Regions from separate parts of the Homo sapiens genome. Here region 2 is linked to region 1. Evidence: fine-mapped QTL for protein levels in blood plasma. A gene starts in region 1. The other region holds a variant in brackets. All regions are shown on one strand. Distances are between the middles of the regions.

Region 1 (16,062 bases):
CCCCTCACATTTCTGCCCACCTCTCTCAGACCTAGTCCTAATCCTGGGGTTCTGAGCACCAAACTGTGCCTACCGAGAGTGAGCCCCATGATGCCTTTGGGGCCTGGCTCATACCCTGCTGGGTCATTGTCAAGGCTGGGTCTCCCCTTGATCCTTAGAAAGAATGAGACTCAGGAGCCAACATGACGGCCAAAGCCCCGAATGATCCTTCAGCCAGCCAGAAGAGGGCCTTCAGGGAGGGCCATGGAAATGAAGGGACCAGAGAGCTGCCAAATGCCAGGGACCCTGTGGCGGCTCAGAGTGAGACCCAGCTGGCGACTCAGAGTCCCAGCTAAGAGCCCGTGGTCTTTGCAAGCCGAGGTAGCCAGCCCCAAGCATACCTGGTCCAGCCATGCCATCCTCTCCCACTTCATCTTCTTTCTAACAGCTAAAGACCATACCACTCCAACCCAGCCCCAGGTAGGCCTGGCCTAGCAAAGCGGCCCAGACAGTCCACCATGGCCACCACCCTCCTGCCTTTGTGACGTCACAGCCTGGTTGGGTGTGGCTGCGCATGGACCCTTCCAGGCTCCATGAGGTTCCTGTGTATCAACAGCTGCAAAGGCAAAGGGATTGGCCTCCTGGGCAGAAAGGGGCCAAAAGGGAGGGCCCTTTGGAGGAGCGTGGCTCTGGTGAGGGGTGGAGGTGAGACCCACACTTATGCTCTGATGCCTTGCAACTGATTTCCTCCAGATACAAACAGGGCAGCTGAATGGGGAGATGGCCTCCCCCATCAGAGGCAGTTCCCAGCCAGCTTCCTTGGATGGCCACACAGGAATCACTCCACACACCATCCCTGAGAAGCAGAACCACAGGGAAACCTCTTGTCCCTCTGGAAACTCAGTTACAATCAGTTCAGCACTTGAAGGAAGGATCTCGAAACATTACAGCCCGAAGAACAAGAGGGTGAAACTGTGGAGGCCTCAGCATCTTCTACCCAGAGTGTGCCCAAGCTATACCCTGGGGCAGCCACCAGCATCAAGAGCTTCAGGCCAGTAGGGAGCTAGGGGACCTCTTGGTCCCATTTCCTTGATAACATCAGAAATCTGAAGAACAACTCTCCAGCAAGGCACGGGCTTCAACTGAAGCCCTCTTCCCAAGTCATACTAAAACAAGAACTGACCCCAGCTGCGGGTGCTTCTCTCTGCCCGCACATCCCTCTTCCAGCCTGCTCCATATGCAGCCCCACACAGTGGGGGTTCCTGTTGGGATTGTGTGTCTGGGGCAAGTGACCTTACCACCCCAAGCCTCCATTTCCTCAGAAGTCAAACAGGGATGGGGATGCTGACTTTCCGGGGTAAGCGTGACTCTCCGCCCTCTCTCCAGCCCCCTGGCTCTGGAGTGGAAATCTGGGCTCTTCTCGAGCTCAGTCAATACCAGCCATAGATATAACAGGGCACTGGGGAAAAGATGGGGCAAGGAGAGGTCATTTGACCCATGACCTCTGACCCTCCCCCACCTGCCACTGGCACAGCTCCTGTGGGAATCCATTTCCCTTGTTCTTTGGTGTTGGGTGGATTTAGAGAAAGGAGTCCTGATGGCCTCTCAGAATCCAAGTCCTGAAACAAGAATGGGGACACACACAGAGGGGCTCCAGATCCACTCCCTGCTCACTATCCTCCCAGACGCCCTCCTGAGGCCCTCCAGTACCAAAGAGGGCAAGAGGCCACCCCAGTCCCCTCCCATCACAGACCTTTCTGGCAGCCTAGAAAGGCTAACCCAACTCTGCCCTATGAAACTGCTTCCCTGAGCATCATTTTCAGAGGAGCAACACCTCTGTGTGGCTATAAAGAGCCTACGTGATTGTGACCATCCCTGCCTCCCACTGGCTTTCTACAGACAGACACATCCTTGGAGCAGCACACTGGATGCAGCTCACCCATTCCCAGAGACCCAGGCTGGGTACCAGGGGCCCCTTCTTCCAACCCTTGGCCCACCCCTGGCAATCTCTAGGTCAGGCTTCTGAGCACCAAGACTGGCTGCTCAGCTCCCACCTTCACCAGCACCCTACTACCCACATCCACCCCCTACACACATACACATACAGCCCCAGCAATGCACTTCCAAGTCTGAGTTTCCCTAACAGTCTCACTCTGAACCCTTCTCCCTGCATCCTTGGGAATGCTGGAAGCCTGTGGCCTGCAGTGGGGGAGAGGCACAGTTGGGTCTGTCCTGTTCCTCCTGCCCTCCCTGCTGACCCCCGCCCCTTGGCTGTTTATCTTGTCATCTCTGGCCGGGTTGAAGAGGGTAAGGGGGTGAACAGCAGAGCTGAGATATGGGTCAAGCTTGTCTCCTGGGCCAGGAGTCAGAGACATCTCCTGGGCTATCCATTTCCCTCAAACTGTCAGCTGCGAGAGCGCAAGCAGAAGCTCCATTAAGCCGAGAGGGCTGGTGGGCTTTCCAAAGAGCAGGACTGCAATTCCTCCAGGCTTTGCAGCCCCATGGCCCTGGGCTGAAGCAAGGGGAGGTGCTCCCAGAGCAGCACCAAAGGCAGGTCCGGCCCCCTTAAGTCCGTCGAAGGGGTAAAGAGCCACCCAAAATGCCTTCCTCCAGACCTTGGCCAGGACCTCAGCACAAACCCTTCTCAGCTGCCTACCCATTGCTGAGGGTCCCCAAGGGCTGGAAGCCTTGGGGGAAAAGAGGTGAGAATTATCCTCTGAGCAATTCCAGTATGGTCCACACCCTTCTCCAGGGTGGTAGGTTAGGAAGGGGTCACCTGGCCGAGGTCAACGAAAGAAAAGAGGAGCAGACTCTCCAGTCCCCAGCCCTCGATCTGTCCTCTCCTTTGCGTCTGCTGCCATCCCCACCAAAGAAAAATAGCAAGGAGAAAAGAGCAGGCCACCACTGGTCTCCCTCGGAGGGGGCAGAACCAAGCAAAAGCCAGCCAGAGTTGAATGTTCCAAATGAACCGATCCGCACGATCACACAAGAAACCCCTCTCCTCAAAACACACGCCCTCTCCTCTCCCTGCGCCATCCTGACTCGGAATAGTTCCGAGCAGTTATCAAAGCCCAAACTGGGAAGGGATCTGTAGGCGCCCAGATGCAGATGAGGGTGGCAAAGGGGTGTCTCGGAAATGCCCAAAATGGGGCTGGAGAGGGCGGGCTGCAGGAGGGGAAGGGAAGAGGTAGGCGTCCATGACGGCCTCCACACGTCCAAAGTCTCCCCGCGAGCAGCCAGCTCGCAACTTGTTTACTTGTCAGCATGTTTTGCTGTTTCCAAATGGAAATAGTTAAACACCTCGGCTGGATCGCGAGCAGTCCCTATCTGTCACCTTCCCTGCCGGCTAAGCGCTGCCGCCGCTGCCACCGCCGCTGCCGCCTCTGCCAAAGAATCGAACCTCGTCTACTTTATTCCACTTGAGCGTGGCCAAACTGTTGCTATTTAGTGGGGAGCAAAAAAAAACAATTTGCACCATCGAAACGAGCCAGCAACTGGTTGGGAGGCGGGCGGTAGCTGGGCCCCGCGTGCCCTCGGCGGCCGGGGTCCTCTCCGGGGAGAGGCACACACACGCATAGCCGGATCGCGCCTCGCCAGGGCCGGAGTCACCTGGAATGCGCAGCCGGAGAGCATCTCCCGAGCCAGAGCGAGCCTGACGCGCGCCCAGCGGGCGGCGGGCAGCGGCGAGCTGGGGCGGGCGGAGGGCCGGCTCCCGGCCGCGGGTGGGCAGGAGGGAGACGCAGAGCGCGGGGGAGGCAGGCTGGGGAGCGGCCGCCTGACTTACATGGAAGTGATATTCCTTGAGATGTCCGTGATGTTGATACTGGCGTTCCCATTGCTGTTCCCTGAATCCTGCCCTTCCAGGAGGGGGAAGAGGTTCCCATCGTCCGGCCGCCGGCAATTGATCTCAGTCTTGCTGCAGACACAATTTGCAGGGCAAGCCAGCACGGAGCCCACATAGTCCAGCCAGACGCTTCCCAGCAAGAAAATCCGCCAGAAACTACACTTGGCTGGGCAAAGAGAGACATCCATCTCCGATCGCTGCTTCTAAAAAAGAGGAGGAGGAGAGGAGAGGGGGGTGGGGTGGGGGGAGTGGGGAGAGCAGGGGGGGAAGGAAACAAAGACGGCGAGGGAGGGGGGAAGGGGGAGGGGGGGCCTCTGCCTTTGAAACGCCGAGCGATCAGATGCAAAATCCTTCAGCGTCTGAAACCATCGCGGACGCCGCCGCCGCCGCCGCCGCCGCCGGGTGGGAGCCGCGAGGAGCGCCTAGTGGCGCGGTCTGCCGGGCATGGTGGCCGGCTCGGCGATCGCTGACTCGCCGGGTCCGGGGGCTCTGGAAGCGAGGCGCGCTCTCCGACTCCGAGACTTTGCAGGGTTGCAACAGACGGTGGGGAGGCAAAAAAAAAAAAGGAAAAGGAAAAAATGGTGCTAAAGTCACCAAGTCCCACCTACTGGGCAGAATTAAAACGGACACACCACGCACCTGCAAAACACACACACTCACTCTCACACATACACACACCCGGAGCCCGAGGAAAGGAAGAGAAGGAAGATGCAGTAGGAGCTGCAGCAGCCGCCGCGAATGGCTCGCCGCGCGGCTGCAGAAATGTACAAGTGCTCCGAGCCTTACGAAACGCACGGGTTATCGGAGCGTCTTCCTCGGCTCCCTCCCTCCCTTCCTCCCTCCCTCCTCCCCTCCCTCGTCGCGGCCTCCTCCCCCCGCCCCCCGCCCGGGCTGGGAGCGGCAGGAGAGCGGAATCTCCCCCTCCCTCCCCTCCCCACACCCGTCTCTCTCCCCGCCTGTCCTCTCCCTCCTCCCCACCCACCCACCCACCCACTCGCCGGCTCGCGGCTGTAGCCGGCACCGCCACCCGCAGCCTCGCGGCAGCCCGCCCGCTCCACGCCTCGCAGCGCGGCGCCCGCTAGCCGCAGCCCGGGGGAAACCGAGACCGAAGGGAAAAAGTTGCATTTGAGATTGCGAGGGTCGGGGCTGGGGAGGGAGAGTTGGCGAGCTGGCTGCACGACACGGAAAGGCGCTCTCCTTTCCACTTTTTGGCCCTCGCGCTACCCGGTTTTGCTGCAATCCGGACCGCGGTAGGAAGTGAAATGAACGTGGCGGAGGTGATTGGGGAGTGCTCCCAAGCCTTGGGTGGGGGGCGCTCCCAAGCCTGGGTGGGTGGGGGGCGCAGGCTCACGGACGGCGACGGGGGGTGCCGGAGCGCACAGACACCCCAGAGAAGCACCCAGAGCCGGGGACCGGGACCGCAGACGCGCAGTCCTTGGTCTGAATGACACTCATTTCCGTAATCTAGAGTCTGGGGCTCTGGTCTTGGCTGGGAGGGGACTGCGGGACATGGCACGCTAGGTGCCCCCCGTGCCCGCTGCGCTTTCTTGGAGGTGGGTTTTGCATTCGGCCTTGAGCAGGCATGGATCGGGGAAGGAAGAAACAGGGGTCGAAAGGGCTGCGCTGGAGAGCCGAGGTGGCCCCGGGCGAGCTGTGCGTGCAAGAGAAATGGCCGGGGGAAATTGAGATGCAAGGGGCATATTTTGGCAAGCGCCACGCCAGCACCGTCAGAGGCCGGCTTCTCGGGCTCAGCTCTCGGGTGAGCTGAGCTGGCTGCCGGGTGAGGGGGCGGGCGGGCTGCTTTCTCCGGATTCGGGGGCGCAGAACCTCCTCCTTCCCTCCCACACAAGCACCCCTTCCTGGTAGGGACGCAAAGCAGGTGCAGCTTTCGACGAGAGCTCAGATCTCATCCGGGAAAGAAGTGTGTGTGGGGGGGGCCCCGCTTTTGCGCTGGTAGGGATTTTTTTCTTAATAAAACATAAAGATGCCAAGTGTGAGCTGTTTGCTGAAAAAAAAAAAAACGAGCATTCGCTGTGGGAAAGGAGAAGAAAGGGTTAGGGGAGTCCGAGCAGGCAGACACACTACAGCATTCACACGCAGAAGAAAGCAGGGTTCTCCTTCCCGAGCTTGGAGGAGGGCAGGCGAGGAAGCAAAATACATTGAATTCAATTCAACTGCATCCAGTATCTGAAAGGAGTCTCCCCCGCCCCCCTGTGGATTCCGATGCAGGTCATGCAACTTGCAGGCAAGATGGGGGAAGGGGTATGCCGGTGTCACCGCCTGCCCCAGGCGCAACCACAAACAGGCCGGTCGCCTTCGGGTGGCACTGTCGCTTGGAGTAAAAACTTGGACGAAAAAAATGGAAGAAAAGAACATGCCTATACAAGGCAGTTTTCCCGACTTCCCGTCACGTTCCACCTTCCCTTGGCCCCAGGGAGATTTTTACCCCCGTCGCCATTATGGCCTTGTCTCCAGACTGGCATTTTGCCCTCCCACCAGCAGGCGGGGACAGAGTGTGAAGACCTCCTTGGACTCTCAAACCACTTGCTACTGGCCCTAGGCCAATCCTGGCTGTCCTTAGGCCACTGGGAATTTCCCTGTCACTTCAAGTGCCATTCTGGGATTGGCTTTAGAATATCTGAGAGTCAGGAAACTGAGGTGTAGTCAGATCCTAACACTTGGCCTCTCTTGGGAGGTGGCAGGTGGCAGCAGAGAAACACAGCCTCTCTCAGACCACTCCTGGGCAGGGAACGCCAAGTGGATTCAGCCCAGCATCAGTGCTCCAGCCTGGAACTGAAATGGTTGTGTCCAAAAGATGCCCAGCCCACTTTTTTGAGAGAGAGAGAGAGAGAGAAAGAAAGAGAGAGAGAGAGGATTTTTAACATGTCAAGCAGAGAAGAAGAGACATCCATAAGTTAGAACAACAAAAACAACAACAACAAAAAACCTTTAAAAACCCCTCTGGATTTGGTAAAAATGCAGATTGTGGAGCAAGGGGCCCTGATGGGCAAGAAGTCTTTCATCCTGACAGTAAAATGGGATTAAGATGGGGTGCTACGTTTATGCTCACACTCTGGGCCTGAGCAGGAAGCGACAGCTGAAAAAGAGGGAAGCCCTTTCAAAAGCAGGTGACGCATGGACACATAGAGGGGACAATGCACATGAGGGTCTACCAGAGGGTAGAAGGTGGGAGGAGGGAGAGGATCAGGAAAAATAACTCATGGATACCAGGCTTAATACCTGGGTGATGAAATAATCTGTACGACAAACCCCATGACACATGTCTACCTGTATAACAAAGCTGCACATCCTACACACGTACCCCTGAACTTAAAGGTTTAAAAAAAAAAAGCAGGTGATAGACTAGAGTGGGGAAGAGCAGAATTTCATTTCTAACCACAGGGAAATGACAAGCTTTCTGGGACTCCGCTTTCCCATCTGTAAAATGACCACGTTAAGACCAGATCCTCAAAACCCAAAGTGTGGCCCTCTGTCCAGTAGCATCCATATCACCTGGAAGCTTGCAAGAAGTGCAGCATCTGAGGCCCCATCACAGACCTCCCAAACCAGAATGTCCATCAGAACAAGCTCCCAGGTGATTCATAAGCACATCGCAGCCCCATAGTCATCCCTCCCAGCTTGAAGATTCTCTGATTCTACATGGATCTGGGCCAAAGGGACTGTTGAGGGAGAAAAAAAAAAAAAAGGTGGGGAATGATGGGGATGGGTCCTCATAATGTTATTCAGTTACAGTGAAGTTAGGGTGAAATAAACTGGGTATCTCAGAGGCAGGGGCCTTGTCAGAAAAAGACATTTGAAGTTTCATTCTAAGCTTAAGAAGATGAGAATGACCTGCTCATGCACTGCTCACAGAAATCATAGTGCAGGGTCAATAATAGTGCACACTCAGAGTTTGCTAGTTCTTAACCTCTGCAGTAGGCCAAATTTAAATGTGGGAGCAGAAGAAAGTCTCCAGCGTAGACACCCTCCCCTCAGTAAGAGTCCAGAGCATTTACAGTGTCTCACCTCTTGATAAGAATGTCCTGGTTGAAAAGGAAAAATGCCTGTCGCTTCATGGAGTCCTGGAGATATCATGACCAAGCTCAGCATCCAGCCAACCAGGGGTCACCCCCCAACCTCCTCATCTCCTTTGCTACCAGCTGGAGTCTTAGAAAGGAGGAAACTCACCCGTGTGCCCCTTGCTGATCAATAAGAGGCAGGAATAGGCAAAGTTTTTTGTTTTGTTTTGTTTTTTGAACAGAAAGTAAAGCTTTAGAAACCCTTTACAGGCGAGCAGACACCTTCCAGTACCAAGGGTTTGGAGAAGACAGAAATGTTCCCAAGATTCGAATGCAATCTTTCACCAGACAGGTCAGAGTGGGGACCACTTGCTGGAGCACAGTGGCCCAACTCCCCTGACACCTAGAGAAATTGAACACGTGTCTTTCTTAAAAGGCATGTTCCAGGCGTGCAAGCACCTGAGATTAATATCAACTGTTTATGGGAGATTTCCAGCAGCCCACATTCCCCTCCACCTAGCAAGGGAGAAAGGGAGTGGAAACTCAGAGCAGAGCCCTGCCAGTCTATTGGTCACCTGTCTGCCTTTCTAACCCAGCCACATCCCTTTTTCCAAAGGACCCATACTCCTGAGTCAGTGGCCACATTACCGGGATGTAGGCCACACACCAGGCAGGTCCATGGATTCACCCACCATGCCCTGCTCCTATGGTGTCATTCTGAATCCAAGAGCTGTGCTTCACAACTTTCAAGTTTGAGCAGAAATAGGATCTACTTCTGCAAGTCTCAGCTGGTCAAGAAACTGTGATACTGGGAGGTGACTGGGGAGCACAGCGGGCTACAAAGGGAATACTAGGTCCTGAAGGACTTGCTGTTCTAAAAGAGCTATCTGGAGCTGGCAGATCTGGGCTTGGGCTAGAGGAGGAGTTCTGTTTCTTGGGTGGCCCAAGCATAAGTTACAAGGGAAAGAGACAGGTCTGGGCCTGGTTGGAGGCTGGGGATGTATAATGCTATCCAGAAGCTCTGGGTCCAAGGAAAGAATTTTGACCATACATGGAAGATGAAAGCCCACCCACAAAAGGGGACAGTCAAGCACCAAAGTGGTCCAGGAAAGCAGAAGAATTCAACCATGGAAGAGCCAGCTCAGGGCTCCCACTCAAGTCCCAATATCTTGGACAAACACCTGCCAGGAGGTTGGGACTACCTGCTGGTGGTGTCCTGCTTGAACACCTTCAGTGGCAGGAAGCTCATTACCAGCCACTCCAGAGCCTTCGACTCTGTTCTCAGACAGCTCCATTCCTTGGGTATCCTTGACTTTGACATAGCGAAGCCAGCACCCTAAAGCTGCCACCCTCGTGCTAGTGCTGCCACCTAGACCCTCAGGGAAAAGTCTCACCTCTTTTCTGCAAGCCACCCAGGAGGCTACTCACTGCCCCTCTCTTCTCTGAGCAAAGCCTCAGTTCCTTCCCTATACTCCAAAAGCACAGCTTTCTGATCTTTCCCCACTACAGCTATTGGAAATGCATTCGGTTTGTCAAAGTGATCGGTTTAAATAAAGCATGGCTCCAGATCACACCGGCTTGAGGTGCTCTGACCTTGGGGAGCCAGGCGGTAAGCAGCTGTAATGGGACTAAAATGGTGTCATGTAGGGTTTACTACCCGCTAGTATCGAACCCTAGCAATGTACTTAAGGCTCTCCGCCTCAGTTTCCCCTTCTGCAAAATAGGATCTAACTCACAAGGTTGTCATGAGATAACACAGTAAGGCACTTTGAATAGTGCCTGGTGCACATAAGCATGGTATGTCAACTTTATTATGCCACTTTTGAGGTTCCCAGAGGGCTTTACCACCCAGCAGGGAGGCCCCAGCAGCCTTTATCCACTAACAGCCAAACACAATGCCGCCATGAAGCTCTTCCCACACACATTGCAGCACCCCCTGGCAAGTTGGTGCAATGGGTCGGGTGCAGCCACCGCCCACAGATACTCTCTGGCTCTGGTCCTAGACCCCAAAGTGGTGTGCTGCCAGAGAGGGTTCAGTGAATCTCGGGTCCCTGGGGAAGAAAGTACAGAGCGCAGGCCCAGGTACATCTCCCCTGAGATGCAACTCCTCAGCCCCGGAGCCCCTCGCTGCTGGTTCTCATGCCTTTGAGTTGCTCCTTCTGGGCTTTGGTCCCTTCCATAGGAAGGTAGACCCTGCTGAGTCACCACCGGCTCTGAGCAGTTGAGTTGGGCTGGGAATTTAATGCCGCACGTCCTAGGTCCTGCAGAGGCAGTGACTCACAAGGCCTCCCTGGCCTCTGAGTGTCCTGGTGGGGGCCCTGCAGGAGCAGATGCTAGAGCCCTTCCTTAGACAGCAGGATCCAGGGCAGGCAGCTGACTTCCTGCCAGCAGGTGAGCACTGCAGGCAGGTTAGGGGAGCCAGGGAAGAGGGATTCCCACTCCATGAGCCAACTTCCCCCAAGGTATGAAATCAGGAGTCAAGAGTCAGGACTCACACTTTTAGGAAGCCAGAAACCTGCAGGTGGTTGGCAGAGGCTAGTGCAGCACCACTGACAGGGACTGAGGGGAATGGAGAGGCTGGAGAATTGCACCTCCACACCCACCCTCCATTATAGACATAGCCCTCACGTGCCTTCCTAGATGAGCTCTCTCGGAGTAACTTACATTGTGCCTTCCTCTGCACAATACCCAGCCATTTGCCTATTTACTGATGAGAGAGCAGCCAGGGATCATCTCAGAGGGCAGCCGGGGATAATGGCCTTCATTTGGCAGATGAAGCAACTAAGATTGACAGGGTGGGGCAGAGAAGTCTGGGCACCTTCCTGACTTGCAAGGAGATATTCCTGTTACCAGGTTTTAAAATGTAACTTCCTTGAGGGCACAGACCTTGCTTATTTTATCTACTGATTTGCCAGCCCCGTAAACGGCATTGAGAACACAGAGGGGCTCTCTAGGTGGTTGTTGAATGAATGGCTGCCCCCAGCACACCTTGCCCTTTTGTACCACTCCACACACATGGAAGTAAGGGTTCAGTGTCTGCCTCCCCCTGGGCTGCAGGGACCAAGAGGGCCAGGAGCTGTCAGTGTTGTTCACTACATACCCCCCAGGGCCTACTTTGGTGCTAGCCCAAAAATGGACACCACATATTTTGGGGGAAGATTAAATGAATTATTTTGCTGCCTGAAACCCCATGTGTGTCCACAAGAGAAGTTTGGGACTTAACAGAAGTGAGGTGCTTTGAGCTGACCACTTCCTCTGTATCCCCAGAGTTATATGTGCCGCCACACACTTCTCCCCAACAAGGCAAATATCAAGGGGTTTCTAGAAGCAGAAAGATTAGCAGCTCCTGTTTTCAAGAGAAGGTTGGGAACAGCAATGTCCTACCACCTGGGCCTTTGGCAGCCTCCTCCCACTGAGTCTAGGGAAGAGCCCAGGTCCAGCAGCCCCATTACTGTGGCCTCTGCCCTGCAGAAAGCCAAAGAAAGACTTCTTCTGGGTTAGACATTCCCCCTTCGTTCCTCCCCATCTCCTAGGGCCCCCACTGTATCCTATTGCCCTTCTTGGTCAACCCAGCCCACTCCTGCTCGGCTCCCAGGCTCCCGCCTCTGCCTCACCACCTCCCACGGTTGCCCTTCTCTCCACCTGCTCCTCACCAAAGCAGCCCATGCCACACCTTCCAGCTGCCCTGGCCCTGAGCCTCTGGCTCAGATTATAGGACTATGGCTTTCAGACCCATCTTTGTACTAATGCATTCATTTAGCATCAAAGCATATTGGGCTGCATCACCTTGGGCATGCTACTGTCCTTCTCTTATCCTCCACTTCCTTCTCTGTCACGTGGGGATCCAATGATGCCAAGGACCAAGCAAGATAATGCACCTGAAAACACCTTGTGGACATTAACACTCACAAATGACAGCCACTGGTTTCCACTAAGAGTAGCGGACACCAGTACCTTTGCACACTTGATTAGCACTTCACCTCTGACCTGCCTGCATTTATCAACAACCAGATGATCTCAGAGTTGAGGAAAGCCAAGACAACAGCTTCCATTTACACCATGCATTACACTCTCGCCTCCAAGGGGCAGCTTTATGAAGTGTGAGTTTTAGCCCCAGGCAAATCTGGTTTGAACCCCAGCTCCAGCACTTTCTAGCTGGTGACCTGGGCTTATCATTTCACCTAGCAGAGCCTCATCCTCCTCTCCTGAAGGGCACTGCTCATGGATATTTCCCTTGCAATGCAGTTTGGAGAAGGCAATCATAAAACGTGCATAATGTGCCTAGCCCAGGATTTGATACATAGGAGTTCTCCCTTCCCTTATTTTTTCTTTCTACTATTCTTCCTTAGGGGGCCCGCTCCATACCAGATGGTTCGGCCTCCCTATTAGGGTGCTCACAACTCCACCCTCCTTGCTTGCTAGAAACTATCCTGGCTTCTGTTTCTTTAAACAGAACAGAACTCCAGGAGCATAGAGGGCCAAAGAGGTGATGCCCCAAACTCCTCAGGCCCAGAGAGGAGGAGACCAGATATTTGCCAGATACCTGGGACTCAAAACAAGAAATCACCAGATCAGCTCCAATTTCTTCTGGCACTGATTACTGAGAACAGCACACACACAACACACATTTAAGTAGGTATCAAGAGCAAATGGAAAACCAAAATTTAAAAAAAAAAGTGTTGTCTTATTTGCTGAGACACCAGTGTGGGAATTTGGGGGAAGCGATGCGTTGTGGGGAAGGGCATGGGAAGCCATGCTTGCCTTTGGAACTAAGAGATAGTTCCCTCCCACAGACTTTCTGCTGCGTCCTCCACCCCCTCCCCAGCCCACAGCACCAGCTGCACTGCCTGGGAACTGAGGGAACAGAAAGCCCAGCCCAGGGAGTTCTGGGATGGGGGTGGGAAAGGGAATGAAGGTGGCAGTGGGGGAAGGTGCAAACCAGCCCTGACAAAAGCTCAGGTCGGATGCTCAAAGCTGTGGGGTGAATGTGAGGCATGGGGAAGGGGTCCTAGAAACTCAGCCTGGAAGCACACCTGGAAGGCACCATGAGTTCATCCAACTGCTGGAAGCCAGATGACCCTCAAAGCACTGCGGACACTTGGAGTTCCCCTTGAACACCCTCTTCCTAGTGTCAAGTTCTAGAACTTCCCTCCAAGAAAGAGAGCCCAGGAGTCCAACCCCATGGATGGATGGCAGTGACATTTTCCCACTGTGCATGTGCCCTATGACAGACCTCTCCCCAGTGTTTCCCAGTGACAAGCCCCACACTCCCCTTGCCCAGCCTCATGCTGGAACGAACAAGGAGATGTCCATAGAACTGTGGTGTGAAGGATCTAACCTCTTTCCAGAAGAGTTTATGGTTGCCCCAGGGCTCAGTGTCCCTGACAGATTTAAATGTAGCAGAAGCCATCCAGAGGCCACACCCACATACCAAAAGGGAAGCATCCCCTGGACCAAAGAAAGCCATCTCTTACGATCGTGGGGCCCCAGAGATGAAGATGGGCAGAATGATGGTGATGATGATGATAATAACTTCAACCGCAACGTATTGACTGTTTTCTGTGTGTGACATTTTTCTATAGCCTTCACGTGTGTCATTTCATTGAATCCTCACAAATACTTGGTTTTACAGTTGAGAAATAGAATCAGAGAGGTTAAATCACATGTCCAAGGTCACCCAACTGGTACGTGGAATAAGCCAGGTTTTAAACCCTGGTCTCCTAAACACAGCATGGAACCAGGTGCCACTTTTTACACTAAATTGTCCCTAGTGAGGCAATGAGGAAAGGGGAGACTGCCACCTCTGCAGGGGACTTGGTGAGGTGCACTTCTGCCCCTCTGCATCCCCACACCCCTTTGCCAGGGTTTCCCTGGTTTTGAGACCGAAGGAAGGAGGGAGGACCCCAGCGGTGACCATCCAAGCCCTCATTAGCCATAGCCCTAGACCATCCTGGGCTAGGGCTAATGAGGGCTTCAGCAGGGAGCACAATATTTAGTCTATGACCTGTCCTGTGGCAGGACAGGTTTTATCTAACACTCAAATAGCTCCTTCCCAAAAGATCAATGGGCCAACTTTCTCCCAAAAAGGACAGGGATTCTAGAGTTAGGCCCTTGGCACAGTGGACACAATGAATGTCCTACCCAAGCATCTGTAATCAACAAATCAATAATTAAGGGAGGATGCACATTAACCTTTGAACAGGTTCCAGAGAGTTTATTTTTGATCTTAAACAGGGTGAACAAGTGTGTGCTCCAAGCCTGGGGAAGGCTGTGGGCAGCGACAGAGAGATGGGGAGTGGGCTCGGGGATGGGTGTGTGAACTCACCACATGTGGTCCCCAGGGGCATGTGCTGAGGGTGGCAGGAACCTCCAGCCTGCGAGGGGGTCTTCAGGGGCTGGACAGTGCAGGTGAGCACGGGGAGCAGGTGGCGGGGGGCGGGTGGGCTTTACTCGTGGGTGGGGTGCGGTGGGGTGTGGGTGAGGGGCACTCCCAATGGGCTGGGTATGCACATGTGGATGCAGGTCGGAGAGAGAGGTGGGAGCCAGAGGGGTGTGTGGGGAGGTTGCGTGTGTGGTGAGGGCAACTGCAGAGGCTGGGGGCAAAAGAAGGTGCTTAATGAAGGATGCTGATGGCAGGATCCTCATTCCCTTGTGCCAGATTGAATTAGAAGCCATACTTTTAATCTGTAAACTCTCTGATGCAAAGATGACAGAATAGAACTTTGTAAATATCACCGCACTTCCTGACCCCCACTCTTCTCTTCTGTCCCTCCCTGCCCTCATGGGCTGACCACAGAAGCCAGCTCACTTTGCTTTCAACTTCCAAGTCCACTGAAAGTTTCCAGTCCCGGGATTTTAGGAAGAAGAAAGAAGATACTAGACATTTCTGTGAGTTCAGTTTATCATTAACCCCAACTCCCTCACACATACCAAAAATAATAGCAATAATAATATCACTGATTTTATAATTATAAAATCATAATCTTTGAAAAGGCCTTAGAGATTAACCATTCCTGTGTTCCTCACATTTTCCCAACTAGAATTCCCAAACTTGGAGGAGAGAGAGCAGGGAGGGAGGGGATGAGGGGGAAGGGGGTGGAAGATTTGTGCCATGTTTGTTATTCCTGTGCCTTTGAAGACCCTGGGGTATTGCCACAGTCACAAAAGCCTCATGGAAACTTACCAATTTGGGAAACACCACATTTAGTACAATCCCCTGTCCCTGCTATTTTATAGGTAGACAAATTAGGCCCAAGATAACTAAGTTATGTCCCCAAAGCTGCATAGTTAGTTAGGACTACAGCCAAAGGCTTCTACTCCGAGGCATCCATTCTGCCCATTCAAAAAAATGAAAGAAAGAAAGAAAGAAAGAAAGAAAGAAAGAAAGAAAGAAAGAAAGAAAGAAGGAAGGAAGGAAGGAAGGAAGGAAGGAAGGAAGGAAGGGAAGGAAAGGAAGAAAGAAAGAAAGAAAGAAAAAGAAAGAAAGAAAGAAAGAAAGAAAGAAAGAAAGAAAGAAAGAAAGAAAGACAGACAGACAGAAAGAAAGAAAGAAAGAAAGACGGAAGGAAGGAAGGAAGGAAGGAAGGAAGGAAGGAAGGAAGGAAGGAAAGAAGGAAGGAAGGGAAGGAAAGGAAGAAAGAAAGAAAGAAAGAGAAAGAGAAAGAAAGAAAGAAAGAAAGAAAGAAAGAAAGAAAGACAGACAGACAGACAGAAAGAAAGAAAGAAAGAAAGAAAGAAAGAAAGAAAGAAAGAAAGAAAGAAAGACAAGTAACAGATTCTGGCTAGAGGTCTGAGAACCTCATGTCCCAAATGCTGCTGGCCCCTCCTGGACCACACACCTCTCTCTCAAGTGGAAAGCTACCCTTTTTTTTTCTTTTTTCAGCACAACAGCATTTTATGACACATTTTTATGACATCAGCTCTTTAAGCATCTCTCTCCAAGGAACACAAAATTCTCCAACATAACCTCACCCAGGCCTTACAACAGTCCCCCAGAATCCAGCAGAGTACAGCAATTTTTGGTGTTTATTGGATACCTATTTTTCCTGCCTCGTTTCCGAAATGGATTTACAGGCAAATATAATGACCTCTCCATCGTACAGGTAGGAGTAACATAGGAACGCGACTTTCTCATGGTCACATGATACATTTTGGCCAGTGAAGTAGATGAGACCGCCTATTGTATCATCTAAAGGAGATCAGGGTTTAGCCATGTGGCCT
Region 2 (16,062 bases), 290 kb before region 1:
TGCCTGCCTTGGCCTCCAAAAGTGCTGGGATTTCAGGTGTGAGACACTATGCCTGGCCTCCCCCATCCTAATCAAAGTATTTCCTTGACCCGTCCTCCCCTAGAAATTACTCCTTTGTCTGCCTTCATCACCAGACTCTGATGGGTAGTCTAAGCGGCGTGCCATATCATTCTTCTGCTTCCCAATCATTTCTCAAGCCTCATTTCACTCTCACTTCTACCACTTCACCCCCCTGACTTTACCTGTTATAAAGTCACAGTGATCTCTGATGCCCAGGCCCAACTGCTTTTTCCTAGTCCTCATTCAACACAGGTGAAGTTTAAATCCTTCACAGTCTGACTAATGCCTACCTGGCCTCTCTGATCATTAGCAGCCTTGCATCTGATGAGATGGGGTACTCACTTATCTCGACAGACATAGGTATGATCAGGATTCTGAAATTCCAGGAAGCCCAGGGCATATGGGTACTTATCACAATGTGGTATATGACTTCCCTGTGCACAGCCATCTCCCTCTGAATCACAGACCAGGTTTGAATCCACCATGTAAACCTGATGCATAGCCTACACTTGGCATTAAGTTTAGAGACTATCATTAAACTGTTGACTGTCATTAAAAGAAGAACATATGCCACCGATCCCTAAAAAACTCAAGCTAGCTATGTGGGTAGATTTCCAAAGAATCTGGAGACACTCCTTCTAGGGAGATTTTTTAAAGTCGCATTTAATTGATGCCTTAGCTAATAACTTTCTTAAATGAACAAATATTTTTTGAGCACCCACTTTTCTGGGCACTGTAGTATTAGCAGGTTTGCCGATTGGCATACCAGCTACAGCAGGAGCTGGGGTGGGAGATGGGAAAGTTAATCAGGCAGGAAGTAAGTCAGGTCTGAAGTGGGCTGCAGTGGCAAGGCCAATTCCTGAGGGTGCAGTCTGTCCCCTAAAAGCTCCTGCTTTCTGAGCTGCAGCAGGTCCTGCCCAGGGCATGCCCAGATGGGCTAAGCAACAGATGGACATTGGTGTGTTGGTGAGAGCACCAGGCTTCCCTTTGGCCTAGCCATTAACCCCTGATTCAATCCACCTATAACTGCTTCTTCTCAACCCCATTGCAAGGAAAGCAATGAGCAGGTGCTCAGACTTCTTTCTGATGCTGTATTTCCTTGATTCCAACTACCCCTGCTTCCAGGAGCATACCAGAGAGGTGGGCCACACATGGCTGAGTGGACTTCCAGAGCTGGCATCCATTGTCCCTCTCTCGGCCTGGCAGATAGGAAGGGCCAGCACCCAGGGATCTTGGAATGCACATGGCATCTTGGCAGCCACCTCTAACAGATGACCAACAAACAGCTTGCTTGGGCTGTAGGAAGTGACACAAACCTAATTGCACTTATTGGTTTCAACTACAATGCTCCTCCCACACCCAGCTTTTTTCTCCCTTCCCTGTTGCCATTGGATCTTGATCCCTAATATCATCACTTTATGCTTGTCTTGCCCGTGCATATGTTTGGGCTCTTTCTGCATCATCTGCTCTGCTGTCTAAAGACCTTTCCTTCCCCCAGGACTTATCTTCAGCAGACAAGAGCTCAGGAACCCAGAAGAGGAGAGGAAGAGGATATATTTCTCCTGCCTGACCATCTTTGGCCCCATCCATGCTCACCCCTAGAAAGACACTAAAGACCCTGTTTGTTAGAAAAAGAGGAGGAGAGGTGTTGAAGCCACAGCATGGGCTTTGCTGTCACCGCTGAGGGCTGCTAGAGAGAAAACATGGCTATCACTTGGCCTCAAAAGCTGCAGATTTAGATAATCTCACTAGCAATCTCTCCACCCCTTCAGATTTCCTGTTGCTATTTCCTTGAATTCCTTCCAGCTGGTTGACTTCTCTCCAGTTTGTGCCCCTCCCTTGCCTGGAGCCCAGATCAGTGGGTTGGCTGGAAATGCCTCTCTCTGAATTGTCTGTGGCCTTTTACAGCCAGCTTCAATCTCTACTGCCATGCCCCACCCGATGTGTTCCAAGGACGCCGCCTGCTTAAAGGTCAGAGCAAGAGGTCAGGATACATGGGTACTACCTCCCAACCCTCACTCTGACCTTGAGAAAGTCATGGCATCACGCTTGGTTAACCCTCTGCAGGACATAGAGATTAGAGGCTTCATTCAGAATTCCATTAACATTTCTGGACTGTGCAGCTCAGAATCCCCAGCCCTAAAATGTGGCAAGGCTCTGGCCAGAAGAGCCCTTTGGGGAACAACATTATGTGAATGTTGGCAACATCTTGATGTTACCTGAAAAAAGATAATGACCTCTGCATTCAACGTGTTGCATCTTTGGGTCTGAAGCAATAATGTTTCAGAAGGAGATAGCTTTCCACAGTCAGCTCTCTGTTACAAGATAGCTGTCCCTCAGGAGAATCCACTGGATACCTGCTTGGGGGAATCCACTGGATACCTGCAGTCCTCATCAGAGGTAGCAATGCAGTGACAGACATACTATCTCTGATGAGGGCTGCCACTGAGCCATCTCCCTTGTTCAGCTTAACCACCAAGAGTACCTAAATACTTGTGCTGTTTTTCGTAAGAATGGAAAAATAAAACAATCCAAGTTTTCAAACACAGGGGACTAGACAAATAAATCTGGTATGTCCACACAGTGGAGCATGACACAGTCATTAAAAGTCAAGCCATGACCCTCTGTTTATTAAGACTGTGGGGAATCTCATTCTCATATATGGACAGTCCCCCACTGAACGATGGTTCGACTTGGGACTTTTCAATTTCACTATGGTGTGAAATTATTCTGCTTTTCACTTTCAGTATGGTATTCCATAAATTACATGAGATATTCAGTACTTTATTATAAAGTAAGCTTTGTGTTACATGATTTTGCCCAACTGTAGGCTAATGTCAGTGTTCTGAGCACATTTAAGGTAGGCTAGTCTAAGCGATGATGGTTGGTAAGTTAGGTGTTATTAAGTGCATTTTCAACCTGTGATATTTTCAACTTATCATGGGTTTATCAGGACATAGCCTCATGGTAAATTGAGGAGCATCTGTATTACTCTTGGGGTACACATTGGTATCACCCCATATGGCCAATATATACAAAACAGATATACCAAATAGCTTATAGGGGTCATACGGCTTTATGTTAATATTATATTTAGGTTCAACCACATTTATTTAGTTTCAATATATTTAGGATCAATCCATTTCCGTGTTTTATAAGAGCAAACTGTTGTGAAGAAATTAAATAAATTTGAGTACATCAATATAACAGGATAGTATGGATCTCTAAAACAACAATGAGGGAGTTCTCTAAGAGCTCCAAGAAACTGGGGTGGGGAAGGGATTATCCTAAAAAGTGCACAATAGTATGTATGACACAGCTGCAGTTGTACAAAATAGAGAAAAAATAAACAACATACATTTATATCTGTTTGTATATAATTGGCTTAGATATAATTCATAAGGACACTCAATAACAGAGGTTACTTATCTGGTAATGGTAGCGGTGCTAGGAACAACTTGCCAATGAGGAACAGGTGTAAAAAAGGGGAGTGCTCTCATTTTATAGACAGATAGATCAATCTGTAGCAGTAATTTGGATAAATAATGATAATACTTCAATAAAGTTTACATATATTATATATGTTTAGTTTATATATTATATATTTACTATGTATTATATACAAGCATCATTGAGTTCATACATGCAAACTTTATTTTACATATTTATTATATAACTTATTTTGTATATATATACAAACTTTATTGAGACATTATTTTACATACCATAAAATTCACCTATTTTAATGTAAAATTCAACAACTTTTAGTAAATCTACTGAATGGTATAATCACCAGCATAAACCAGTTTTCAAACATTCATCACCCCAACAAGAACCCTGGGTCCATTTATAGTTAATCCCTGCTTCCAACCCCAGCCTTAGGCAGCCACTAATATAATTTCTGTCTCTCCGTATTTGCCTCTTCTTGACATTGCACACAAATGGCATCATAGAAAATGGGATGTTTTGTGTCCAGCTACTTAGCATGTTTCTCTGAGATTCATTCATGTTGTAGCATGTGTAAGTGCTTCATTCCTTTTTATTGCTGAGTAGTAATCCATTCTATGGTTACACCACATTTTCTTTCTCCATTCACCAGTCAATAAACATTGCGTTTTTCTGCTCTTGACCATTATGAAAAATGCTGCTATGAACATTTCTGTGCAAGTTTGTGTGTGTGTATATGTGTGTATTTTTTTAACCATGTGGTGAATATATCACTTCCACAAAAATTTTTAACATTGCAAAAGATCAGTTAAATTGCAAATGCAATCTTATTTTTAAAAAAAGGTAGCAAAGTAATGTGTATGTGCATGTGCACGTGGAATGATTTGATTCTGACAAATAAGTACATAAAAAAGATTAGAAGGCAGAAAGCTGAAATGTTAACAGTGTTGTCTCTGGGTGATGGGATGGTGGATAATTTATGTGTTTGTGTGCTTTTCTGTATTTCACTGAATTTTCTACTGTGAATATAAATTACCTTTGTAATCAGAAAAAAGCACAATGTTATTAAAAGAAAAAAACTATCCTTCCTATTCAATTTCTCCAGGGTCTTTACCTTTCTGTGACAGAGAGATATTCTCACAATAGTCCACAGATGGGGAGCCGGGAAGGGGCAGCCCCTCTCTTTCCTTTATGATGCTGGTCACGGCATCCAGAAAGCTGCAGATCCCCAGTAAATACCAGTCAATTGTGGAGACCTCGAGATCAGTCTCTATGGCAACTGGGTGGGCCTGTAAGAGCATTGCCCCAGTGTGGAGACTGTCCAGCAGGAAGAACCTCCACAATTGTGTACCTCAGGCAGCCCGAGGTCACCAAAGGACCGTGGTGTTTATTCACCAGGCAGTGGAGTCAGGATTTCCAAGGCTTGAAGGCAGCTCTCTCTAAACAATGGAAACTTTAAAGTCTTAACTGATCATTTTGATTATGCCATTCTTTGAACTGCCATTTTTATTTAAACATCTGCAGATCAATATCATGATTCAGTATTTTTAAGAACTCCATTAGGCTGAGCAAGGTGGCTCATGTGTGTAATCCCAGCACTTTGGGAGGCCGAGGCAGGTGGATCACTTGAGATCAGGAGTTTGAGACCAGCCTGGCCAACGTGGTGAAACCCCATCTCTACTAAAAATACAAAAATCTGCCAGGTGTGGTGGCGGGCACCTGTAATCCCAGCTACTCGGGAGGCTGAGGCTTGAGAATCACTTAAGCCCAGGAGGTGGAAGTTGCAGTGAGCCGAGATCACACCACTGCATTCCAGCCTGGATGATAGAGCAAAACTGTCTCAAACAAACAAACAAACAAACAAACAAACAAACAAAAAACTCCACTTGGGAACTAGGTGTCTTTCCTCTATGTTTACCTCTCCCATAATTTCATCATATTGCTTCATAATTACTCACTTATCTATACCAGGCCTATTCCTTACATTTGAAGGACTTGGGACAAGGGAATAATTAGAAGCACACACACATGTCTAAAATTTGGAAGTTATAAATCAAGCTAACACACTAATAAATAAGGCATGTCTTATCCTCCTGCCCTGCGAAATTGATCTTCAGGATGACCTGAAGGACCAGGTGACTTCCGGTGTCTCTGGTTCCTCAGATTTGCGAGTGGAGACACATGGTGCTAAGGAGTTGGCCCCTGGCCTGTTCCCTTCTCTTCCACCCCCATCTTCCATCCCACAGTGAAAGGGGTCTCGCGTACATATGTGTGCACACTGAGCCTGCAACTCCATCTTCCTCTAACCGTCCCACCCTGACACTCTCGATGTTCCCACTGCCCCCACACAGTAATCCTTTGGCCAACTCTTGGGCTTAGCAGTACACGTACCTGCAGCGTAGCCCACCCTTAGAACAGATGAATGAAGAGACCCGCATGTGTCCTGGAGGCAAGCTGAGAGCTGTTTGGGTAAGGAATTCTGGTTTAGGAAATGAAACATTGTCTAGAAGGGAGGTGGGGTGCAGGCTCCAGATGGTCCCTTCTCATGGCCCTAGGACTTTTGGCAGCTAAAGGAGGGCCCTAAAAAGTGGGGAGGTCCCCTCTTACCCAAGACTAGTGAATACTGGACTGTATTGTCTCTAGACTGGGGTTTCTCAACGTTAATACTGTTAGCATTTGGGGCTGGATCATTCTTTCTTGTGGGGAGCTGTCAGAAGCACCCACCCTCAGTTGTCACAACCAAAAATGTCTCCACACATGTCCCTTAGGGGACAAGATCACCCCCAATTGAAAACCAGTGCAGGAGACAATAAAGCTCTTGATGACAGGAAATACAACTGACTCACTTAGTAGCAGAGTGTGTGGCACAGAGTGGATGCCCCAAATATGTTTGAAGAATGAGTCAATTAAGCAACATTTGCTCATGATCTCAGAGGTATTCCTTGAAAGACCCTATTCCGGTGGGTTTGTGAAATAATCCCACAGAAGGGCAGTTCTTGCTCCCCGGGGTATAAATGATGAACAGGAAGAGGCATGAACACTGTCACCCACTTAGGACCTCATGATGAGACAGGTCCCTCTGCTGGGTGGTGTGCTGGGTGCTATACAGAGTTAACCTAAGGAAGCTCCCTAGACATTAAAGCATTTCATAGTCCAATCTTCCTATACCGAAGCTGCCCAGCTTAGGAGAAAGAGGAAGGAGGTGCCAGAGTGTCTAAACTTAAATAGGCACTCCCATAGGTCCTGGCTAGAGCACTGCGAGCCTCACATGTTCCTTAAACAAGTCCAAATGTGATGCACAATGAGAGCTACAGTGCAATGAAGGGATGCCCAACCAGCAAGGTGCTGCTTATAAATTCTCTCATCCCATGCCATTCATGCCTCCTGCTCTCACCAATGGGATTTTGTAAATCCTGTTCGTGCTGAGTCTCTTCAATCAACCAATAATGTTTACTGTGACATCAAGCCCATGTTCTTCTCCAGAGCAAGCAAACAGCCCCCACTCTGTTTTCTTATAATAGGTGAAGTCTTTCTTGTATATTTTCCACATTC[C/G]TAGCAACTGAACATGCATGGTTGTAGCCAGTTTGCTTTAAGTCAACACCCATGGGGCAGTCAGTGATGTCTGAGTAAAGAAATGGAATTCTGATGGACTTCTACACTTGGATCAAAGTGCATGACTGGTAGATTTCCCTGGCTCCAAAGGGACTCAGGTTTGATTTCAGAATCTGCTTGTGCCTGTTTTCCTAGAACAGCAGGTCTCAAAATGGTCCAAAGGTCCCTGGTGGGCTCAAGACCCTTTCAGGAGATTCATGTGTCAAAACTATTTTCCCAGCAATAGTAAGATAGTGTATGCCTTTTTTACTCTCGTGTCTCGCAGGTATTATTCATGAAGTTGTCCAGTGGTTTCCAGACATGTGATGATGTCATCATCCTGACAGCTACATGGAATGTGTGTGTATACTTGAGCTTTTAAATTATACTCAGTTTTAATTTCAAATGCAGTGAATATGATGGATATAACCCACAGAAACAAACATCATTTGGGGTTTCTATGACTTTTAAGTGAAAAGAAGTCCCAAGACCAAAAACTTTGAGAACCACTGCCCTAGAGCAATGGTGCTAGCCTAACTTCTACATCACAGCAAGTAGGGAGTGGAGGCAAAACACTTCAAAGACTTCTGGGAGGTAGAGTAAGTTAGTGAGGGTAAAAATATGTACACGTTCAGAGTTTTATAACAGGAGTGTCACTGTGACATTTTAACTGCAAAATGTTCTCCAGGTTCTTCAAGGTAGAAAAAAAAACAGGTCTAGGAAAGAAACGAAAGTATTGATATCTTCAACAAAAGCAACACCTCCTAAATACAATATTGCTTGTTTGGAGCTCTACTGATGATCTAATTTGCAGTTTGACTAACCTCACCTCACCACCCCTAAACTGACCAAAAGTTGACTCCATGTGTTTGCATCTCCCAGAGTATTGTCAAGGGTATGCAAAAACAATTAGGAGAGTGACTAAGAGCGTGTTTGTACCATGTGTAGAGATGGAAGAGAGAGCATGTGAAGCTTGTGATTCTAACTGCAATTTGGGGATTATTGGTGAATTTCAATTACCCATGCTATAGAATCAGGATATGATTATCAACATGAAGCATTCATTTTATCACTGACCAAAATAAACAGATGAAAGAACTCATTCCCCCCAGCTTTACCACCAATCCTTCAATCAGTTTTTATTTAACCTTTTAACATTTCTTTACTTCTTTTATCTCCTCACATAACATAGATGCTATCCCCCCACCCCCTGCCAGGTACCAAGGTATTTTGAACACAATGGAATTATCCTTCCTATGCCCAGCATACTCAGAAGAGGCATAGGACAATTGCCTTCATCTTTCAGAGGGAACGAATGAGAGATGAAATTCACCTTCCCAGATTGACATGGCCAATTGGTGCCCAGGCCCAAACGGAGATGCTTCCCACTCATATCAGAGCAGGGGCCTTCCGAATCCCTGCTTGAAGAGGCACAGGCTGGAAACACCCACAGGGGTGGAAAGAGTTACTGACGCGTGTGCCAGAGTCCCTTTAAGGGAAAGAGGTAACTCCTGCTTTGTGCAAATATCATTTCCAGAAATTGCGTCCCCCAACTCATATATTGAAGGACATGAATTTTCTTGATTAAAATAATGATAATAGCAATAATAAGAAGAATAGATAGATAGATAGCTCAAGTAGAGCTCAACAGCATGTGACTAATGAGAAAAGTTTTACCAGTTCAAGGCTGGGGCAGCTAAATAATGGCCATAAACTATCATGTGAAGCCAGGCTACTTCTCTACAGCCTGCTTACATCTTCTGTGCTATAAATAATTCAGAGTTTTCTTTTTTCTTAAATATCACAAAACCAAGTCAGAATCTTTATGTGAAGGATTCTGCTGTGTCCCTCTCTCCCTCCTCCTCTCCCTCCCTAGCCAGCCCAGGCAACTCCCTGGAGAATGACCCCTCAAGCTTTAACATTTATACTTTGACATTTCAGACTATTTGTTAGGCAGAGCTGCCTTCTTGAGATCAATTTCAGAAAATCTTGCCGAGAACTCCCGCTTGGCCTTGTCCAGCTGTGACAGAGAGGGTCTATTAACCCCCAAGCATCTGCTTCCACCCTCATCCAGAGAAATCCACTGATCCTCACCCAAAGGGGCAGCCATCTCTCTCACTCAGTTTGCCTTATACACAACATATTCAGAGAGAGAGAAGGACCAGGAACCAAGAGATGTCCTCCACTAAGAGACAACAGTGACTCATGGGGACATGGTATTTGGGGCATCTGTCCAGGCAGGGTCTTTTACATGAGGATCAGCAAACTCTACTAGCTACTCAGAGACAAATATGGAACAAGGAAAGGTAACTTACCCCATGTCATTTTGCTAGTGGTAGAGTTGAGACTGGGATCCGGGTCTTCATTGCTGTATGCTACCACTAGATGATGTCACCTCCACCAGCCTGGGCGGATGGCCAGGTTTAATGCTGAGGTCTCAAGCTCTTATGTGAAATGACTTACCATTTTCTTCTGAGATATCACAGCGAAGGTTTCCTGATCTTCACAAGAGTGTCTATCCATCAGCAACCAGAATTTTTTCTGACTCTACGTAGAAGGCAGAAGTGAGGGCTGAGCCTAGAGCTGGGTAGCGTGCTGGGTGTGGTGGTTTCTTGATATAAGAAGTGGGTGGTTGACGAACACATCCTGCTTGATTCTTCTTTAAAAGCTTCTGATCACACTATAACCCAGTGTTTTCTAACATGTGTGTGCTGAGTCTATTAATAGATATTAAATGAAGAATGTTTTGTGTTTAATTAGAATTGGAAAGAGGTAGAATAAGGTTTGTTTACAGCAGGACTTCTTGGAGCCTTTGATATCCTAATGCAAACTGTGAAACTCTAAGAGCTGGCCATATTGTGCAACATTCTCCAAAGTTCTCTGATGGATCCTTGGCATATCATGAGACTAAGGAGAAACATTGCTGCAATCAATAAAAAGGGGAGCACTTGATCCTTACAACATCATTTGTCTAGTAACTGGAGGAAGAGAAAAAGATTTTTCTGCAAGTTGGGGATTTCAAATTAAGGGAGAACCATATTGCAGGCCCTGAAGCTCTGCCCAGAAAACAGACCAATTTATGCAGGATAACAGTTGGTCAAGTGATTGACCCAATAAAATTATTAAGATGGCCAAAGACACCATCCTGAAAATGCACAGTGGGGTTATTCTGGTCTTCTTAACGACTAGGTTGGCCATTTGGTATCAGAGGTACTGTGTAGCAATCTCCTGTTATGGTAGCAAGAAATGCCAAATTGACAGCCATAAAGATTGAACGATTCTGTGAGTCATTTAAACATGAACTTAGAATTTAAATTCTCCCAAGAAGGACATTCTCAGAATATGTTCTATATTGGTGGTGCCTCCCCTGCTGCCCACTGACAGTGGGAGGAAACAGACTCAAGTTCTCCCTGGCCAGCTCTATATCTGGCTCCCTCTGAAGCAAAAGGCCTCAGTGAGGAGCTATGGTCGCCGGTTGGGGGCAACCAGAGAGCATCACAGATCCTGGCTGTGCCCTCCTGGCCAGGGTGAGCTGTCAGGAACTAGCAGTCTTGACAGAAGTTGTTTGAGATTTACTCTCATGTTCTCTGCCATGTGAATTTTCTTTCAGAATTAATAGCAAGAGCATCCAGAGATTCTGACAGAATATAATTAATAGGCTAGATTTAGTTAGTATCTAGCCAGTACTCTGGAATGTTCCTTCTGTCACCCTTGCCTTGACTTTGGCAGCAAGAGGGCAGAGCTTGGAGACTGCTTGTCTGACCCAGTGCTGAGAAAGACTGGAAATTAGCCTTTGTAGGTGCAGGGGTCCCCTGCGTCACAGAGGCTAAACCCTTTCAGCTTAAAACTAGAGGACCCTCCATGTCATGAGCTCCCGACACGCTCAAGAACCTAGCTGTGAGAGGTAAATATTTCCCTAGGCCTGTGCAGCTGCCAAGGACCATGTCACAGGCTCTGTAGACCTGCCCCATCCCTAGAAGAGCACATGTGCTCCCCACAGCTCCACACCCTCTCTTTTTAAGAGAAGTGCGTTTTTGAAGGTCAGGATTTCATGACTTTTGACCAAAGGCTATTGCAAGCCTTGCAGAGCAAAGAATACCACAATGTGATTTTTAAACGACATTACGAGGTCCCAAACAGACTGAAGGTAGTGTGAGCTTTGGAGTGAGAAAGTAAGTGGTCTATCAGAACTCTGTAACAGAGGTATCACCAGGCCATATTAGACAGCAGTGAAGTCACTTTCCCCTTTGCCAAGGCTAAGTCCTTGTCCTTCTCACTGCAGAATGAACTTGAGGGCAAGGGAGGGGAGAATGTGTCTTTTTCAGGGAAATAGGCCACTTGCTCCAGTGAGGTCTCCAAAGGCAGAGCTAGGCTTCATTGAGCTGCCATGATAACAGCACACAGGTGGCAGAAACTGAGGCAAAGACAGCCATGAAGACAAGCTGGTCATCACTGCAATCCACAAAGGCTTCCAGCATTACTTACCAAAGCCAGGTTTGGTAGTGTTTTCTGAGGTGACATGATGTTCTGTCCCTCAAACTTGGAAGAAGACAAAAGTCAGGGACTGCCATACTGGAACGATGCCTTTGGGCAGCCTCACTCCTTGCTCTGCAAACCCTCTCCATAGCTGAGCAGGGGATTTTGACCACCCCTCCAAACTCAGACATTACTTGACATTACTCTTAGGGTGTGAAGTGAGAACTGCTCGAGGGTTTTGGCTCTCAGAAAAGCCAAGCTCCATTCTTCTTGACTTACGCCAAAGGCCCCAGTCCCCACCCATAGGTAAATCAAAGCCTTAAATCATCTATTTAAGAGAAGCTTTGAGAGGATCCTTTTGGTAGAGGGTCATGAGAAAATACCATGATCCTGAGAAAGCCAGGTGCCCATCTGGTCCCATATGGAAGGCTCATGTATCTTGGTTTGAAAGTCCCACCAGAGCCCTCAGCTAAGATTTCTCTACAGCTCAGTTCTCTGGGTAATTTGCAACCCTGCCGTTTTCCTCTACCTCAGAGTTCCAAGTTCCTTCCCAGATACAACCCACACAGACCTGGGCTGGAGGCCTTTGATACCAAATCTGAGCCATCAGTACCTTCTACGTCCCTGTGGGATCTGTGCTCCTCAGAAGTGCTCCTGTCTTTCTTGTTCCCTTCTCTCAAAGCAGAGCATGCCCCAGTCAAAGGTTTGCCTCTGATATCTTCCTTGTCCCCCTCGTTTTTGTCATTCCTCGCCATCCTGGCCCAGGAGCATACAGAACCTTTGAGCAATGCATTCACACCCACCCAGAAGTCAAGCATAATGAGGAGAGAAGATCTAGCTCTCTCAGGCACAAACACCCAGATATTTTGTGATAGAAGGAAAATGTGCCAAAATGAAAAGGGGCAAAAACACAGAGGGGTGTTAGACCTTATCACCCGTGCAGAAATCTCTTCCCTTATCAAGATTTAATTTCAAGGGAAACTGGGGTCACTCTATGCAAGTTTTATCCACTGAGTAGGAGAAACTGGAACAAAAGTCCTACCCAAGAGGGCCTCAGAATCCTGATGGAATTTCAGAACCACCCAAAAAAGCAGACAAGGGACTTATCTCTTGCCAGCATATCTCCTTCAACTCACTTTTGGGTTCAAGTAGGGTTGAAGAAGGAGTCTTATTTAGCTCTGGAAATATACTGTCAGATCTAGGCTGAGGTTTTCTTGGGAGGTGGGAAGTATAGGGGGTGGTAACAGTAGGATTTCTAAAGGCAAAATGCAGAACCAGAGCTATCCAAGGAATCTGGAGGCTGCAAGCAGTTTCGCCCACATCAGCCAGCATTAAAGATTGGCAATGTGGTGGGTGGGGGAGAGCTGGGAGAGAGGAGGAGGAGAGCTCCAGGCCCGTGCTGGACAGTCTAGATGGAAGCCAGACTCCCCATTGTTCTCCACCTTCCTCCCGTCTCTGCTGTCATGCTTAAGAGTTTTCCCTGGGCCCTTCACAGAGAAGACTCCAAGCAGCCAGCATCGCCCCTCTCCCCCTCCCTGTCTCTCCCTCCCTGCCACCTTCATTTTGCTCTTGCTTTCAGAGTCATGCTGGCAGCAATGTGCGAGTCTAGCCAGAGCACAGGAGTCAGTAAACCCTGAAGGAACAAAGGCTCCGGCTCTTTGCCTAATCCATGTCTGGCTCCGTGCAGAAAGCTACACAACAATGAAGTCGTCCTGCATTGATCTGCCCGCTCCTGAGCTTTCCCGCGGCATCCAACCCTCCCTTGCTGCCTCACCATTGTATCTGAGATGCTTGATCCTTTGCTCATGCCTGGTCTTGACCTGAGGGAACTGGGACGAGCCAGGGGATGTGTCACAGCCCAGTGCTGTGCTGCGGTCACACCTGTGGCTGGGGAGGTGGAGGTGAGGATGTGGCTGCTGGGAGCTTGGCTGCAGAAAGGGATTCCCGCACAAAAGAAGAGACAGAGGTGGCTAGAGGTCAGATTCTTGACTTCCAAATTGAGCCTGATTTGTGTTTGGTCTTTTTAGGGTGAGCATTGCATGGCTGAGCTTGGACATATCAGGAGGTCTTTGAGGTGCGTTGAAGAAAGGTTAAGTGACAGTGGGTAGTCAGACAAGGCCCTTTCTTCTACTACCTTCCTGTCTGAAGCTGCTCACCCTTGCCCAGACCTGGGCAGCCTAACCTGATATCCTAAGGATCAGGTTGGTCTCATCCTTTCTTCTACCACCTTCCTATCTGAAGCTTCTCACCCTTGCCCAGACCTGGGCAGCCTAACTGCTATCCTAAGGATCAGGTTGGTCTCATCCAACTGTATGATGAGTCCTCCCCAATATCAAAAAGGCCATCATTGCTTGGGAATCTCACCAACTGTAAGACATGTGATTAATCTCAGATCTAAGCCCAACCATGCTTTCATACACCCCCAAGTCACTAAATGCTACAATGAGAGGAAAGAACGTTGCAGATGTTCTTTTCCAGTCTTTAAAATCACCCTGTCCCAAAAGTTCCAGAAGGAAGTCAGGGATGGTGCTCATCCCTGAAGACCCCTGAAAGACTTCTCTGTCTTAGGAGTGGAGTGGGGTTGGAGGGGGGAGCACCTAGGTGGTGTTTCACAATCATAGCCTTCCAGGAGCAGAAGATGTGCTACTTTAGGGGGCTGCAGAGTGGCCAAAAGCATTTTGAGGTGTCAGGCAGTCCCCCTGTCAGTCCTGGTTCTGCCAGTTTCAAGCTGTGGAAACCTGAGCTAGTTATTCAATCTTTCTGAGCTTCAGCTTCCTTGTGGGTAAAATCTGACTGGTTCTGAGTAAGTGCTTCATAAGTTACATAGAATTATTACTATTAATGCCCCACAGTAAACCCATTCTTGGGAGGTTGGCAACCAGTTCCAGGACCTCATCATGTAATGCTAGTAAAAAAGTCCAGCCTCTCCAGGGCATGTCCCTGGAATGTGTTAGATCGAATTTCACCTTGTTTCTACAAGATCTTATTGGTACAGTTGAGTTTCTCATTCTCTGAGCTTCAGAACCAGCACCTGTCAACCAAGTCTCTAGAATGAAGATCCAGGGAGCGCCTGGCAAGCACCCTGGGTTCGTGAACTGAGTCAGCTGTCAATCTGTGCAGCAAAATCCCGCAGGATCAAAATGTAAGCTTAAGGTCTGACAAAGCTACTGTGAAATCCTGTTGGTGACATTCGAATGCAGGAGGTCAGGGAGCTGCAGGACTGGCTGGTTCCCTGAGCCACCCTAAGCTGAGGCCAGTCCAAACTGGCATCTTTCTGGGCTGAGTTCAGCTCTCCGCATCTGCCCTATACCAGCTCTGACTTCCCTAGAGGCACCAACCCTGGGGTAAATGCCATGAGACTTCAACACCTAGCAGTAAAACATGGAAAACGGAGGCCTAGACTCCAATCGCAGCTGGTTCCTCATTCTGCCCAGCAACCTTTCCATAGATCCCCATAGTCGTCCATAGTCTCTTCCCCGTCAATTCAGATGTTCCAACTCTCCTTGGGTCTTCTCACTAGCAGCACAAGGCCTTGCCTCATTCTTTATAGGAAAAATGGAAGCCACCAGACAAGAACTCCCTCACTTCCTTGCCCTATCACCTTGAAAAGACATTCCACATCCTTTCCTCTTTTTGCCTCCTGCTCTATGGGAAGAGCACTCCCTCCATGAGGCCAATGCTATCCCTTCCTCCTGAGCTGTGGATACTTTTCCTTCCCATATTCTCAGGGGCCATCTTTATCTATTATCTCTTCTCCCATACACTGATAGGCTCCAAGCATCAGAAAAAAAGAAAGCTCAAATCTCTCCTATATTAAAAATGAAAGTTCTCCCTCGAACCAGTGCATGTCCTCATGGTCCCCAGGACAGCCTCAACCCTTCAGGCATCCCTGTTCCAACTCTTTCTCCTTGGAACCCTCAAGAAGAGATAAATGCCGAGCTTGGTCTACCCCTCACCCAGGCCACTCTAGAGAGCAGGAGCTTCCATTTGGCATAAGGGGGTCTCAAACCAAACTAGACTTAAATAGAAGATAAAGCAACTGAGGGTATATAGAAAAGCACCAACCTAGCCTGATCAACTTCCTGTCAGACTGGAACGTGAGCTCTTCCACATTACTTTACTTGTCTCATCTCTACTGCCTCAATGACTGAGCTCCATCAGGGATTACTGGGGCCCAGTGAAGCATTCAGATCCACCCAGGAGCCTTTTCCCGGCCCGCATTCTCCACTCTTGCTCCATCTCTCCTGCATACAGGGCCTCACGGTGTCCTCTCCTCCTGAAAGGAAGAGGGCAAGTTACAGGGAGCATTTCAACTCTTCTAGCTGTGTCACTGCCAGGGTCCAAGGGTGCACAGATGTGCCAGTTCATCTAAGCATTTTACTCTTTGGCCTCTCCCTCCTGGCAGCCCACATGAAACTTGCCATGAGAGTGTGGCTCACCTGAGTGTGTGCATGAAAGGGAGTGTGTCTCTGAATGACAAGTGTGTTG

Direction of the effects. Alleles are on the strand shown, and positions count from the first base shown. The strength of an association depends on the size of the effect and on how common the allele is.
With allele C in place of G in region 2, the plasma level of the protein whose gene starts at base 4,597 in region 1 is higher (weak association).

Evidence for each region. PIP is the posterior inclusion probability: the model's chance that the variant is causal. Protein levels are from antibody-based Olink assays in UK Biobank. Linkage for the fine-mapping came from a reference panel and not from the study's own genotypes, which makes the PIPs less certain.
Region 2: its variant is fine-mapped to the plasma level of the NTRK3 protein (UK Biobank, PIP above 0.99).

The regions. Positions count from the first base shown.
Region 1 is chr15:88,252,143-88,268,204 of GRCh38, forward strand. NTRK3 (neurotrophic receptor tyrosine kinase 3) reads right to left here and starts at 4,597. Exons shown (of 20, transcript NM_001012338.3): 1 at 4,502-4,597; 2 at 4,142-4,344; 3 at 3,764-4,026. The coding sequence starts at 4,011. It overlaps NTRK3-AS1 (NTRK3 antisense RNA 1), which reads left to right and starts at 588. Exons shown (of 4, transcript NR_038229.1): 1 at 588-1,336; 2 at 14,639-14,730; 3 at 15,725-15,944. RefSeq lists enhancers at 2,741-3,278, 3,279-3,815, 6,156-6,450.
Region 2 is chr15:87,960,727-87,976,788 of GRCh38, forward strand. The region is part of intron 14 of NTRK3 (neurotrophic receptor tyrosine kinase 3); the gene reads right to left. Among named protein-coding and RNA genes, the nearest start is that of MIR11181, 22 kb to the left of the region's middle. The variant C/G (reference allele first, on the strand shown) is at 7,060.